Linked DNA regions of Homo sapiens: region 1 is linked to region 2. The links come from fine-mapping of genetic effects on gene expression. Tissue or cell type: thyroid. Region 2 holds a variant in brackets; the other region holds the start of a gene. All regions are shown on one strand. Distances are from middle to middle.

The links. PIP is the estimated chance that this variant, and not a neighbour inherited with it, causes the effect.
Region 1: CEP63 starts here. The variant in region 2 is fine-mapped to the expression of CEP63 in thyroid (GTEx, PIP 0.99).

What each region holds. Positions count from the first base shown.
Region 1 is chr3:134,482,217-134,490,321 of GRCh38, forward strand. CEP63 (centrosomal protein 63) reads left to right here and starts at 3,841. Exons shown (of 15, transcript NM_001353108.3): 1 at 3,841-3,986. ANAPC13 (anaphase promoting complex subunit 13) reads right to left here and starts at 3,769. Exons shown (of 3, transcript NM_015391.4): 1 at 3,736-3,769; 2 at 590-715. The coding sequence starts at 688. RefSeq lists enhancers at 3,424-3,543, 3,574-3,673, 3,754-3,863, 3,955-4,773.
Region 2 is chr3:134,533,561-134,541,665 of GRCh38, forward strand. CEP63 (centrosomal protein 63) reads left to right here. Exons shown (of 15, transcript NM_001353108.3): 6 at 3,595-3,708. Among named protein-coding and RNA genes, the nearest start is that of CEP63, 52 kb to the left of the region's middle. The variant A/G (reference allele first, on the strand shown) is at 3,757.

The sequences.
Region 1 (8,105 bases), 51 kb before region 2:
CAAACATTTATATAAGCAAAACTTTTGGATCACTTATTACATGAGGTTTAACAAACTCCCTGCAGCAGAGTTTTCCAAAGATGGGGAAGAAAAGAGTATTCCAGAAGGCCACTGGCCTAAACGCAAAAGAATACCCAGGTATCTTCTGAATATTTTCCAGGGAACCTAAGATAGGTGTATGCTCCAAGAATGTAAGTTTCTAAAAATGCTGAAAGACTGATGAGCCACAGGCAGGGAAGTAAGAAACAGAGCTCATATGCTGCTGCTTCTTGTTCTTCCCCATCTTGCGCATTAAACTCTCATTATTTGGTTTCTCTGGTTTTCGTGTGGTGGACAGAACATGGCTCAGAAAATCGGGGCTCTAGTCCTGGCATGACTCCTAACTGACCTGGCCATGTTAGCTCCCTGAACCACATTTTTCTTCAAATAAAACATACAACTGGATGCTCTCCAGAAGCTTCTAGAGTTAGAGAATTCCACAGCTTTGATTTCTTTGCCACACTAGTTTATCTTCCATTGATATCCCTCCTCCACTAGTTACTGCCAGATCAATACCTTTAACCCATCCTCAGCTCAAATCATAACCTACCAGTGGTATTGCGACATCCTCATAAGGCAGCTTGTCTTCTCGCCAAGCATCATCAATCAAATCCAAGATCCTTCCATCTCTCTGAACCTCACTGTCCATTTTCCTGCAGCTTTGATCTTGTCAAATCTGTAAGCCAAAGAGGTTATTTCTTAAACACGAAGACTGAAGAGATGGTATAATCCACTATTAGGATTCTCCAGGCTTTTTAGTCTGGGGCCACCTTTTGGGAAAAGGTTCATTTTCTCATATGGGCCGGGTGACTACTTTGATCACAGTTCCTCTCTCCAACCCCAACTGATACATATTTTATAGTGTATACTGGACAGGCATAGCCCAGCTGACAGACCAGTGTCATAGAGTGTGACAGGAGAGCAACACGTTAAACGAGGCCCTCAAATATTAATATGTTGCATCTCAATGTAGCTCTTCTCTTCTAACTTGAACATTCACCTTTTCCTGTTTGTGATGCCTTTGATGAGTCCCTGATTCATAATGGCCAGCTAAGTTTCCTTTCTAGCCCCTGGCTCAAACCTCAGCATTCTTAGGCACAGGAGTCACACGAACATACTGTAAAGGAAACGGCTTCCTTCCCTAAAATAGTACCCAGGCTGAGATCTGAATAAAGCACTTCTAGGTGAACACCAGTGGTAGAACCTCATACTGCTAAAGTTTCTCCAGTTTCTGCTTCCCTTTGGGGTAGCTCCTTCCTCGGAGGTTCCTTCCTCTAATTCTTAACGCTACACTCCCTTCAATTTCTGGCCCAAATGGTCACGATGCTTATTTAGCTCCTTGACCATGGCTGATTCCCCATTTTTCTCTGAAACTGCTATAATCTAATCCAAAAGGCTGGCTAGCTTGTAGGATACTTCTGGATTTCCCTGTTTCCAAGGTTGGGCCCTGACTCATCATAGGCATCATCCTATGGGTGCTCCCTGCTACCAAGTGACAATCCAAAAAGCCCGGAAGCCACTGGCATCAAAGGTACTCTCAGTTTCTGAGACTATGGAGACTCACACAATAAGCAATTTTGGGGTGGTGGAGCGGGGTGGAACCCACCATCTGGAGGTGCTTTTTTCAGAGCTCAGCCTGGGTGATATTTTAAGGAAGGAAGCCATTTCCTTTACAAGCTCAACTTCAGACATCGTCTTGCCTTGAGGATTTGTGTCAGGTCTGTAGTTGGTCCCTTCGCATAGTCCAGTTTAGTGTTATCTCAGTATGTTCATGAGCTCCTGTGCCTAAGAACGCTGAGGTTTGGGCCAAGGCAGGTGGAAGTTTTTGTAAAAATGGCTCACAGGGCCGGGCGCGGTGGCTCGCGCCTGTAATCCAGCACTTTGGGAGACCGAGGTGGGCGGATCACGAGGTCAGGAGATCAACACCATCCTGGCTAACAGGGTGAAACCTCGTCTCTACTAAAAATACAAAAAATTAGCCGAGCATGGTGGCAGGCGCCTGTAGTCCCAGCTACTCGGGAGGCTGAGGCAGGAGAATGGCGTGAACCTGGGAGGCGGAGCTTGCAGTGAGCCGAGATAGCGCCACGCGCCACTGCACTCCAGCCTGGGCGACAGAGCAAGATTCCGTCTCGGAAAAAAAAAAACAAAAAAAACCAAAAAGGCTCACAGCTGTCCCCCATAGGATAACTGCAAGATATCCCTAACACCTTGGCAAAAATTATACACAGATTGGTGTGGGAAAGGGTTTACACCCCCATGACAAGGATCTCGGCAAAAGTTAAGCAAAATGCGCCCTGCTACTTCTGTCACCGGTGAGCCAGGTGAGGGCTTAATTAATCCAGTACTCAATAATTAACCGAGTACTACCCAGTGGATAACTCAAAGCAAGACGAAGTTTTGGTTATACTTTTGAAGTCCCTGTCTTACAAGTGCTCCCCACTTTCCTGCTGCTACTCCTTTGTCCTTGCTGCTCTGTCTCCTGGGATACCCTTCTCACTTTCCTCAGCTGATCCAAACCTGACTTTCGGAGGCCCACGTAGATTTTCCACCTTTGTAAAGTTTTCTCAAATCACTCGAGCTTCAGTAGGCCTTCTATCCTTGAACTCTTGCTTCTTGTCCTAACTTAATCTACTAAACAAGCTAGGTCAGCTTTGTGGTCAATTGCTCAGGTATTATTGCCTCCAACTGTTACGTGTACATTTTGTACCCATGATTCCTTAGTAGATCTTTCCACATTTGGTCTCAATCTTTTTCACCTGTCCCTTCTCCAAACACCTCCAACCCTGTCACATTTTCCAGCCTTGACAGTTAAAACCCCCTTTTCCACATCACTAATGCCACTCTTCCTTTCAAGATAAACGCAGGCGTCAGCTCTTGAAGGTCAACATCCCATTTCCGGGATTAGGCGCGAAGGTGCCTTCCCTCATAAGGGGCTGGAAGGATGGGAAGCATCAAGATAATCAATGCCCAGGGCACACTGATTATCTTGTGTATTAAAGCCACCGTCCCAAGTACTCGTCACCCAGTACGACCACTGTTTCCTGAACAAACTTTTCTTACTCACGTGACAGTCCCGATGCCTGCAATGCTCTTTGTTTCTTCCTTTTTATTCCAGTGAACCCACAGTCAGTCTAAAAATCTTAGGTCCCAGGTCGCTTCCTATAGGAGGCCGCCTCCAAACCCCAGGCTGAGTGCGGTCCCGGTACCCACCCCTCCAGGGGTCTCACAGTTCCCTAAGCACAGAGCATGGCACCAACTGGGGAGTCTGTCAAACAGCCCAGATGAATGTCTTTCCAAACACGCGGTGCCTGCGTTTCCAGGGACAGGGACACGTCTTATCAATTTCTATATATTACAGCTTTGTAAACATAATATTTATAAAATCAAAGCGGGAAAGCCTTGTTCCTTGCTAGAAATGAGCCTCGCAGGCCACCACCATCCGCACCGTACGACAGGCCGTCCCTCAGCTGCGGCTTCCTGCCTCAGGCAGGATGTACCAAACGTGGAAGCGGAGACGGGGAGGTCTGGGGGTGCCACGCAAGTCCCTTTCCTCCCGACACGAGTGCAGTAAAGAAAAACGGTTATGAGCGTAAAGTGACAGCCTCGGCCGATGGGAATAGGGGGAAGTCCGACACTGAGCAACGAACGCATTCCCGCGCCTCCAAAACCTAGGCCGGGGGCGCTGGAAACCCTTACCGGCACCCGGCCACCGCGGCAGACGCTTGCTCCTGCCACGCCCCCCCCCCCTCCCCCGCATCACGTGTCTGCACTCGCTTTCCTCGGATTCCCGGATGTGGGTGAGTTCATTTGCTCGCGTGCAGGGGAAGTCTGGAGAAGGCATTGTTTCAATTATTAAAAGTGTGGGGGCAGTGGGCGGAACAAACGCGCCGACTACAGAGGCTGGACGTAAGCTTAGCGGTGGCGCGCGTGCGCAGCGCCGGCCCGAGGTAACGGCGGGAAGGCTCAGGGGCGTGCTTGCGGCAACCCTGTAACCGCCGGTGCGCAAGTTGGAGGGGCAAGGGGCTGCCGTGTCCTGGTCTGGAGGCGGCCCAGGCTGCCTTGGTGATTCTGGCTTCGCGGCCTCATGGCTTGCGGCCGGTTTGCGCAACGGCCTGCGAACCACCAGGCGCGTCCCCGCCGGCTTGGGTCCGCCCCGAAGCCCAGTCCCTCGGCCTGGCCCGCTATGCCCTGCACACTGGCGGAGTCTGGCGTGGCGCAGCCCGGCGTGGGGTTCGGCCCCGCCAGGTGGTCAGCCCTTCCTCGGAGTCCAGGTGGCTGGGGGCGCTTCGGAGAGTGGCCAGGTGGGCGAGCGAGCTGCGCCCAGTACTCACCTTCCCCGGCGGACCCACCTTCCTTTTCAGCGGAGAGACCCCAGTGCGGCCTCCCTGCCAGGGCTGCTGTCTAGCTAGCGCTGTTGGGACTACTTCATTCACGGCACAAGGGGACCCGCTCATTTAGTGTGGCATGTTAAGGTTGGCAGCTTTTAAAATAGTGAGTTGGTTTAAACGGTTATGTTAGTACAAGAGGTACGGAAATGTGGCATAAATCGTGGACTGAAATTGGAGAACCCTGAACTAACGGCTCCATGCACACAAATGAGGGATAGAAAGAAATAAGGACGGTTTCTTAGGAACACTTTAATCATGGAGATACTTGAAGACAGTACATTTAGGCTTATAATGTGGTTTTTCTTACGTCCCTTACGACATCAGGAGAGTAAAGATGAGTATGATGTCAGAGACAGGTCGTCTTTTACAGTTTCAGCACCGTACGCTGATATGCACAGAGTAGTTTTCCCTGAGCCTTATGTCTGGTTAAACTTATTAAAAGAATTTATTATTTTAATAAAGCAGTATTGTAGGGTAGATGCCCTGTATTTATACAGTTCCTCAAGTGCTTGCATTTATTTTTTAGATACGAGGAAATCATAAGGATCGTTGATTAGATTTCTGTTAGCTGTAGCTTAATGATAAAGTGTATATATTTTCTTATTTGGCATGCAGTACCATTTTTAGATTGATTTTTATTTTGAGTTTGCTTTTTGACTGTGGCATTATCAGTGATCAGGGTAGTAAAAAGCTCTGAAACTAAATTAGAGTAGAGATTTATAAACAGGCACACTGCCTTTTAAAATGTATGTAGATGCAAATCTAAAAGTTGTTTGTAAAAATTGTGTATGTTGATTGTACTGATGCCATTTCCTCTCGTTAAAATGGTGGAAGACCTTTGCTTAGTCCTTTCTGTTCTAATTTATGTTGTGCTGGCAGATGGTGACAGCATCAGTAGTCCACTCTGTCATTGCTTCCTGCTTTCAAAAAATGTCAACTTGACTTGAAATTCAGCTAAAGCCAACATTGACAGAAGGTTTCAGGAACTGAATCTCCGATCTTTATGTTATTTTAGTCCGCCTCCCCGCCCCCATCAGGAGCTAGGTTTTTCAGTTTTACAGAGCCACAGTACTGTCATTACACATACACAAATTAATAAAAATTCTCTAATGTCAATATCCAGTCAGATAACGATTTCTTCAACTGTCTCTTAAATGTCTTTTTACAATTAGCTTGTTTGAACCAAAATCCCACAGGGATCTGCCTATTGTGTTTGGGTGATGCACATTTGACATCTTTTAATCTATATTTGTTCCCTCATAGTTATAGCTATGGGATTAGCCCCTATTTTTCCTTACAGTTCTAAATTTAGCAGATTGCATCGCACAGTATCCTTTAACATGTATCTCTGTTGCCTTTGTGTCCTCTAAACCAGGGGCCCCCAAACCCGGGGCCGCAGAGCAGTACCAGTCCGTGGCCTGTTAGGAACCAGGCTACAGAGCAGGAGGTGAGTGACAGGCTAGTGAGCATTACCTACCACCTGAGCTCTGCCTCCTGTCAGATCAGCCGTGAGGTTAGATTCTCCTAGGGGCACGAACCCTATTGTAAACTGCGCATGCAAGGAATCTAGGTTGCACACTTATAAGAATCTGACTAATGCCTGATGATCTGAGGTGGAATAGTTTCATCCTGAAACCATGCCCCTAACCCTGTCCATGTGTATTATTCATATTACTGAAGAAGTGGTTGGCCGGGCGCGGTGACTCACGCCTGTAATCCCAGCACTTTGGGAGGCCGAGGTGGGCATGAGGTCAGGAGTTTGAGACCAGTGTGGCCAACATAGTGAAACCCCGTCTCTACTGAAAATGCAATAAAATTAGCCGAGTGTGGTGGTGTGCGCCTGTAATCCCAGCTACTCGGGAGGCTGAGGCAGGAGAATCACGTGAATCCGGGAGGCGGAGGTTGCAGTGAGCCGAGATCACACCATTGCTCTCCAGACCAGGCAAGAGTGCAAGACTCGGTCTCAAAAAACAAAAAAAAGTGGTTTGGCCATTCCTCCCCCAAAACATTTCATATGAATTTTAACAAAAAGATATTTACAAAATGTGTTATTTCCGCCCTGTCGGTGTTGAGAAATTGTCTTCCATGAAACAGGTCCCTGGTGCCAAAAAGGTTGGGGACCACTGCTCTAAACCAGTAGTTAGATGTAGAATTGCACTGTCCGGTATTGTAGCCACCAGCCAGCAGTGGCTAGTTAATTAAAGTGAAATAAAATTAAAAATTCAGTTCCTAGGCTGGGCGCGGTGGCTCACGCCTGTAATCCCAGCACTTTGGGAGGCTGAGGTGGGTGGATCACGAGGTCAGGAGTTCGAGACCAGCCTGACCAACATGGTGAAACCCCGTCTCTACTAAAAATGAAAAATTAGCCGGGCGTGGTGGCATGCGCCTGTAATCTCAGCTACTAAGGAAGCTGAGGCAGGAGAAGGAGAATCGCTTGAACCCGGGAGGTGGAGGTTGCAGTGAGCCGAGATCACGCCACTGCACTCCAGCCTGGGTGACGGAGCGAGACTGTCTCAAAAAAAAAAAAAAAAAAAAAATTCAGTTCCTAACTTGCATTAGCCACATTTCAAGTGCTCGGTAGCTACAGATTGCCTGGTGGCTGCTTTTTGAACAGTGCAGTTATAAAATATTTTCATAATTGCAGAAAGTTGTATTGAACAGCACTGCTCTAGAAGCCTGATGAGATTTCACCCTTATATTTGTTTTTGTTTTGTTTTTTGGTGGGATAGTTGGGGGGGTTGGACAGATAATTTCATAGGTAATGCAGTATACTTCCTATTTCATTAATTATCAGGGAAGCAGTGTCTGAGTTGTTTTCTTTTTTTATGATGTTAACATTAAACATTATATTGGGTTTAGGTGTAGTTAGCTCCATCCACCCATAGTGAAATTCCCCAAGACTCTTTCACTTAGTGGTGAAGTCCTTTTGTGGGGTTATATTGCCTGTATCCGTTATTGCATTAGAGGTTGCAACGTGGTGATTATCTAATTCTATTATTTCTTCAATATTTATCAACTGAGAGTCTTTTATGAAGAACTTTCCCTTTCCAGCTGTTTGACTACCCTGAAATACAATTTGTACAGGAAAGGCAAGAAAAATGCTTAATTCTTTGCCTCTATTTTCAGACCACAGTAATGAGTTGGTGGCCTAGCAGCCTCCAAAGGTAACCATGAGGGTTTTTGCCTTTTTGTAAACCTATAATCATGAACTTATAGACTTTATATTTAAACTGTTTCAACATATGGCAGTTGTGTTTTTAATACTCAAATTGTTTCATCTTTGGCCAGTGGGAGCTCCTTAAAGTTGGCTCCTATTCCATTTGATATGACCAATAGCTTTGGTAATTTCCTTGCTTTCTGGTAAATAATTTTCCTGGCTCATTTATAGATTTCTGGTCTTCAAGGAGCCGTGGTTCTTTTGAGTCTGAGATAGTATTTGGAGACCACAGTCTTACCTAGGTGGGAGAGGTGTTCTTGCTACTAGGTTAGTCGTTAGTTCTAGGATTTATGGTGGCCAGAGTTAGGAAATATTATATATTAAAAAAAACACAAATATGCAAAATTCGCATTGTTTCCAACATTTAACATTTAAATTTCCAAAATTTAAACTTAATTTTACAGTTTTTTCACACGTTGGATTTATGTTTGTATCTTTTTTGCTGAGTCTTGGTGCCTAGT
Region 2 (8,105 bases):
CTGGTGAGCTAATAGTACCAAGAGTAGATGAAGGAAGAGCACAAGGCTGTCATTCTCTTCGTCTGTCCTTGCCATTAGTTCTTCACTGGACATAAGAATTCCCAGGGTGCTTTTAGGCTCTCAGAAATGCTGATCCAGCAGTATGGCATAGGACCTAGGGATCTGCATTGTATCCAGCTCCCCTAGCTTATTCTGATTTGAGAAACATTGTTCAACATCTTTGTGTGATCACTTACAAGTTTGTACTCTGGGTGACCTGTCACCCACAAATGCCAGTATATTATTATTACTTAAAATTATAATTTCTGTGTTTAATATTCCTTTATATCTCAATATTTTTTTACATTTGAAGAGCTTAGAATCAGAAGACTGCAGCTACTGCTTCCCTTCCACCCTTTTCGGCAATACCTTTTCCCCCCAAACCCTATATCCTTCTTGCTTCTCATTGCCACTTCCTGACTATTCTCTTTTCTTTCTACCTCAAAAACCCCATCTTTGATTTTCATGTTACCAGCCTATACTGCCAGCCAATGAACATAACAACCAAAATAGTCATCGTCTGACCTCTGGGTTATTTCCTTGGCTCATTGATTTCAGCACCCAGCTCACTGTCAATTCTCTCTGACATTACTCTTATCATAACTTTGAGGATCTTAGGATCTGGAGAGATGATGCTTATAATACTCTGACCTTACAGTTTCTTGGCTTTCTTTCCTCCATAGATAGTTTGATTATCTTTGTGTCTCATCTACTTATTCCCACTGCCATTCCTTAGCTCTTGTCATTACCAATATATGCCACCCCTCTAGAATCTCATTTTCAAGCATTCAATTATCAGACTACCAATCCCTATCTTTTCAGCTAACTCTCTCTAGTCCTTTGACTCTCAGTAATCATTAACCATCCCTTAAAATGATTAAATTCTGCCACCTTTTTACTGCTCCATTATCTACTTGGTGTTCTCACTTATCGGTCCTTAGCCAGCTTTTAAATTCTGTCATTACATTTTTTACTTTCCCCTTCATCTCCTGTGCTCCTCTCTTGCTTCCTCATATTTGCTTGGCAGAATCACAGTTCTGCTTAAGTCCACCTTTCTGCCCACTCTCTACCTGTCATGTATCGCTGAACGTGGCTAGAGAAAAACCTAATCATACTGTCTGTTCTCACTTTAAATTCATGGTCACTAACCTCAAATGGGTCCTAATGCTACCTGGAATCATACTGTATTTCCTCTCATCTCCTACTTTCCACAATGAGTATTTCAGACTTCTGCTTTTCTCCTCAAACTCTCAACACCTTTCCCCACATCCTCACCTTTGGGTTATATCTTCCTTTCTGTTTATAGACTTCCAACTCTTGTGTCCACCCACCTATCTGCATCTGTGCCCATGTACCCTGCCTTCCTTCCTGGAGGAACTACGCATGCCCTCCCCCTTTTCTACCCAAGGCATTACCTTAGCAGTTCACCTTCTCTTTTCTGCACCCTTAATTTTTTTTCTCTACTGGATATTTTTTACCAGCATCCAAATTTCCCTCCTCTTAAATATCCTCTCTTGACCCGTCTCTTCCTCCTCTGCCCCATTTTATTTCTTCCATTTTATAACTAAAAAATTACTTCAGTCATCTATACTTGTCTCCAGTTCCTCTTGTCTCATTGTTCTTGTACCCACTCAATAAGGCTTTTGTCCCCTCACACTGCAGAAGCTGTTCACATAGAGGTCACCAGTGACTTCCACATTCCCAAAGCCTGTGGGCTGGTCCTTATCTTCCTCATCCTACCTACAGCTTTGTAGGAGAGCTGGTCTCTCCCAACTCCTTAACCACTTTCTTGACTTGGCTTGAGAAAAACCACATTTCTCTCATTTTTTCCTTGTTCATCACTCCTCAGTCTCCATTATTCCTTAACCACCTAGGGTCATGTCATTGGACCTTTCCTTTCCTTTTTTTTTTTCCTATCTACGCTCACTCCCCTATTGATCCCATTGAATTTCATAGCTTTAACACTGTGTATATGCTGACAATTCCTAAATTTATATATCTAGCCAAGACCTCGCCTCTTCATGACAGAATAACTTTCAACTGCCTGTTTCCTATCTCCACTATGATGTCTAAAATGTGTCAAACTTAACATGTCCAAGCTAAAGGTCCTGTCTTTCTCTTCCTCATCTCCCCAACACTGATTCATGTTTTAGTTGATAACAACTCAATTTGCTCAACCTAAAACCTCGGAGTCATCCTAGACTTCTCTTTTCTCAGCATGATAGCCAGAATGATTCTGCTGTAATGTAAGTCAAATTATATCACTTCCTATACAAAAACCTTCCAGCAGCTTCTCTTAAAAATCTGTTATCCTAATGGCCTACGTGGTCTCATTCCCAGTTATCTCTCTTACCTTGTCTTCTCCTACTTTCCCTTTCATTCACTTTATTCCAGCCACACCAATTTCCTTTCTCACCCTTAAACACACCAGGATGCTCTTATTTCAAGGCTATTCTTTCCACCCAGAATATTGTAACTTCACCCTCATCTCCCTAGGTGTTTACTTAAATGTTTTTCACTCAGTCTGGCCATCCCTTTTAAAAATTACAACCCCAACTGTGAAGACTTCATGCTCTGTTTTCTCCAAAACGTGTATTACCATCTGCTATACCATACAAGAAATGTGTCATCTGTTGCCCCCAGTTGAGTAGGACTAGGGTTTTTGTTTGTTTTGTTAAGTATTGTATCCCTGACTCCTAAAGCAGTACCTGGCATATATAGTAGAATGATTGAATGAATGAATGAATATCAGAAATTTGGTTAACAACACTTATCTTAAGGAGCCTGAGACTTCTGGAGTTGAGGGTCCTGGAAGACAGTGATAGAAAGATTGAGTTTCCTTTCCCTTTGATTTGCCCCATTTTCATAAATATTGAAATCACTTTCTTGATCATGCAATTTGATGTTACTATTGATCCATCATTAATTTTGAACTGTTTGGCTTTGGGTTACAAATATTTGTTAAAATTTGGTACAGATTTTCTTTGTTATTCAAACTTTTGCAGTTCCTCTGTTGAGATAATACAAATTTGGATATCAAAGGATATTGTGTTATCTGAATCTACTTGGTTCCTTAGTTTTAGATACTGGGAAGTAAGATTTGGGTTACCAAGGGACTTATCTGAAAATTTAATCTGTTCAATTCCTGGGTCTGGATATCAAGAATTTGGATAGCGAGGGATATCTGTAATCATACTTTAAAATTTTAGTTATCTTAGCATCAGTTTTCTGAAAATTCACTAGAAAATTATAACAACCCTTAGGTGGCAGCAAATCAGTGAAAAACATCTGAATCCAGTGCTTAACATCTGCGTGTCATACTCCTCACCATCAGGGTGTTAAATTTAGAAAGACAGATATCCAGAGGCACAGTATGTGAGGAAGTTAGTATTACTCTCCAGCTCTGTTAGCTGAGTGAGTAATGGGGCTCCCGCTGTGGAGAAAGGTGCAAGCGTACCCAGGGACATGGGGAGAAATTAAAGTTAAAGGGAGTCTGGGAAGTAGTGACAGTGAGGAGAAGCACTCAGAAATTAAGTACTCTAATTGCCTCCTCAGGAATTCCGTCAGAAATCGCTGGACTGGGAGAAGCAACGCTTGATTTATCAGCAACAGGTATCTTCACTGGAGGCACAAAGGAAGGCTCTGGCTGAACAATCAGAGATAATTCAGGTAGGCCTAAGACTTTTTAAAATAATGAGAAGCAGATAGGTTTTGATC[A/G]AGTTTGAACTACCTTAATGCAGTGTCCTAGTACCATTTAGCCTCTTTCAGCTTCTCTCCACGAACCCTGCTCTCTTGTTTAGGAAGCCTCTCCTCAGCATCTAGACTCAGCTCCTTCTTCCCGCCTGCCCTCACACATGCGTGCATTCACTCTCCTGTCCAGGCTCATGTCCTTGTGCCCGCTTGCTGCTTTGCCTCCTTGCTTGTTTCTGACTTGCTCACCCACTCTCTGTCATTGTCTTGCTTACTCAGGCTCACTCTATGCTTGCATCCATGTTCACTCTCCTCATCTTGGTCCCTAGCTTTGTCGCCCTCTCTTCCTCCCCTCTCTTTCTTCCCTACCACAGTCCCATTCCTCCCTCTGTCTCCTTTTCCATGTCTTTCTGTCTCTTGTTGGGTCTCTCAGCTCTACTATAGTCTGTGCCTTGCTCCATCCCTATGGTCACTGGGGTATCTTGGCCGAAGTGTCTCAGCTAGGGAGCTTCAGTTAGTCTGCCTATGCGGACAGATACGGAGAGAGTCACATGGCAATGGTGTGCACACCAACTAAAAGTGGTGTCTTTGTGGTAACAAAAACACTTATTTTAGAACATTGATAGAAACTTTTCTTGTAATGGCTTAAGCAAAACCAAAAAACAGACACCTACTTTAGGAATATGTCTTGTAAGAACATATTCAGCTCATTCCTTTTTCAGTTAGAATCAAGAACATAAAGGAAACTAAAAAAATTTGTGATCATCTGTTATGTGCTAGACATTGACCCAGTGCTTCTTGTATGTGTTCTCTGTTTAATATTATGATAATCTGTCAAGGTTGGTAGTTATCTTAGTTTTATAGAATGAGGGAACAGCCTGGGTAAGTTGAAATAGCTAGAAGGGAGGGTTTTTTTTTTTTTTTTTTTTGGCTTTTTGGGTTTTTAAAAATAATCTGCATTTATTTGCTATTTTAAGTCTCAATAATGCATTAACTTTTTGTTCGTCTCCCTGAAATATCAGCAGTCTGATAAACTACCGACAGTGGCTGTGGCTCTGCTGTGAGTGACTTCATTCAAAATGGTAGGAAAAGTCCACAACAATTGCAAGGAAGAAATTTATTTTCTAGGCCACAGCAAGCTGTGCAGCCAGACAGACCAGTGAAATCCTGAGATGTCTGGACCAGTTTTTTTGACTTGAATGCCAAAGCACCATAGAGACCTAATAAGAAATTGTGTGTGTGTGTATATATATATATATATATATGTATATATATATTTTTTTAACAACAAAAAATTTTTTTTGGTTTTCTTGAGATGAGGTCTTGCTGCATTGCTCAGGCTGATCTTGAATTCCTGGGCTCCAGCAATCCTTCCACCTTGGCCTCCTAAAGTGCTGGGATTACAGGTGTGAGCCACCACACTTGACCAAGATATTGTTATATTCTAGTTGTAGCCTTCAGATTGACAAAAAAGCAAATTGAGTCTTAATTTTTACAGTTCTCAATTATTTATCCATGGAGTATTATTGATTATAGATTCTCTCTTCAAATTACTGTTATCCTATTTCATATTACTGTTGTGATTATTGACTCTATGTAATTAAAACTTCATTATTAGTAAAAATGGGATTTTTACTTACTGTAATTCAGCTAGGGCTAGGGTAAGAAGCCTTTCAACAGCCAACATTTGTTTTTCCTACTAAGGGTGTTTGAATTAATTCTTCTGATAGTTTTGTTTAACCTAAAACTGTCTGATTGTTTAATAAAAATGTTACATATAAATGTATTTATCCTTCTCCCTTAGCAAACTAAATAAAATTAAATCTTTCAGTGATTCAGTATATACCAGTGCTGTATGATCATCATTTTTTTAAACATCTAAATAAACTTATCTATATCCATTAAGTAGCATTAATAGTTGTCATCATCTTGTCAATCTTTATTTTAATTATGGTAAAATACACATAAAATGTTCCACCTTAACCATTTTTAAATGTATAGTATAGTAATGTTAACTATATGTACACTGTTGTGCAACAGATCTCTAGAACTTTTTTATCTTGTCAAACTGAAACTCTATACCATTCCCTACTTCTTATTTTTGGGTGGAATATTACAGAGCAAATCATAGATATCATCTTATTTCCCAACAGGTAAGGACTTAAAAAATAACAATATATCAGTATCACATTAATAGAATAATAACTTCTTAATATAATTTAATATCCAGTCTGTTCACATTTCTCCAGTTGTCCAGAAAACTATCTTTTTACAATTGAATGTTTGAGTCAGAATCCAGTCAAGGTTGATGTATTGCATTTGGTTGAAAGGTGGGTCACCATTGAACAATGACAGTAGAAAACCTGGGAGGCTGAGTAAGTGGATATTAACCTACCCTCCATTAAAAAAAAATCTCTGTATAATTTTTTTCTTATATGTTTTTAACATCTAAAAGTATAATTCGGAAACAACTTCTCCTTCTTTGACATATGTTTGCTTGAATTCATTTCTTTTAATCAGCTATTAAAATTACATAATACATGCTTATTTTAGAAAAATGAGAAAATGCGGATAAAATGAGAAATAAATAAATCACCCATAATTCTACCGTTAAGAGATTTACGATGAATAAAATTTTGGTGTAAATTTCTTCTGACTTTGTGTATGCTTACATACAGTGTGCAGTACATTCATGTACTTTTGATAGGAAAAACCTATATGCACTGTGAATGGGAAAGGAGGGGTAGTTGCAAACTTTAAAAAGTCCTGAGAGTAGCAAAGTGTTGATAATTTTTGAAGCTGTGTGATAGGGGTTCATCATCTTACTCTCTCTATATTTGTGTATGCTTGAAATTTTCCATGAAACAATAACTTTAAAATATATAGAATGCTTACTAAGTGACAGGTACTATGCTAAGCACGTCACAGCTTTAAAATTTTTCCTTTTTAAATATGACATGTCAACAGATTTGTAGTCATAATGATTGTGTAGAATTCCCCCCTATCGTTAAATGTATAATGACATTTGTAACCAGTCCCTTATTGTAGAACATTTAGTTTTTTACTTTTCACTTTTGTAAATAGTGCTTAGATTAACATCCTTATATAAACATTTAGGAGTATTTATTTTCTTAGGAAATGGCCCTAGAATTGGATTTACTGTATCAGAGTACCTTCAAATATTTTAATATATATTGCCAAAGTTTTCTCCAATGATGGATTGATAGACTTTCTCTAGCAGTATGTGAGAATATCCATTTCCTCATACTTTCCCCACATTGAGCGCTATTATTTCTTTTGACTTTCCCCACTTTTAGGCTTGTCTTTGCCAATCTTATAGGTGAAAAAAAATGATACCATTGTTTTAATATACATTGTTTTAATATGAGTGAGGTTGAGGACTTTTTTCATCTGTTTATGGCCATCTTCATTTTTCATAAATTATTTGTGTCCTTTATTCACCTTTGTTTTAGGATTTTTTTTTTTTTTTTTTAAATCTTAATTTATTTTCTTTTTTGAGATGGAGCCTCGGTTGCCCAGCCTGGAGTACAGTGGCCTGATCTCGGCTGACTGCAACCTCTGCCTCCCTTCAAGCAGTTCTCCTGCCTCAGCCTCCTGAGTAGCTGGGATTACAGGTGCTCACCACCACGCTCAGCTAATTTTTGTATTTTCAGTAGAGACAGGGTTTCACCATGTTGGCCATGTTGGTCTTGAACTCCAGACCTCAAGTGATCTGCCCACCTTGGCCTCCCAAAGTGCTAGGATTACAGGCGTGAACCATCGCACCTGGCCGGATGTTTATATTTTACTATTCTGAAAGAGCTTTCCATACACTTAAGTATGAAATATAAGCCCTTTGCTATTATGTTACAGTTGCGTATGTGTACTCAATTTACCTTAATTTTTGCCCAGTATTTTTTATGGAAGTACAATTGTTTTATAAACAGTTAATTAGAATTGCTTAATTCTATCAATTTTTTGTTCAGCGTTTCTATCTTTGATATCATACTATAAAGTCTTACCTAAGTCAAATTTCTTCTAATGCTTTATCATTTCTTTTTAATACATTTTATCTAAAAATTACTTTAGTGTAAGGTATTTGATAGGAATCTAAATTTGTTTTTTAAATGGTTATATAATTTACTGACTATTACATTTTCAGGATTGGACAAAATGACTCTAAAATTCATATGGAATGATAAATGAACGATACTAGCCAACTTTTTTTTTTTTTTTTTTTTTTGAGACGGATTTTCGCTCTTGTTGCCCAGGCTGGAGTGCAGTGGCACAATCTCGGCTCGCTGCAACCTCCGCCTCCCAGATCAAACGATCCTCCTCCTCAGCATCCCAAGTAGCTAGGATTACAGGCGTGCACC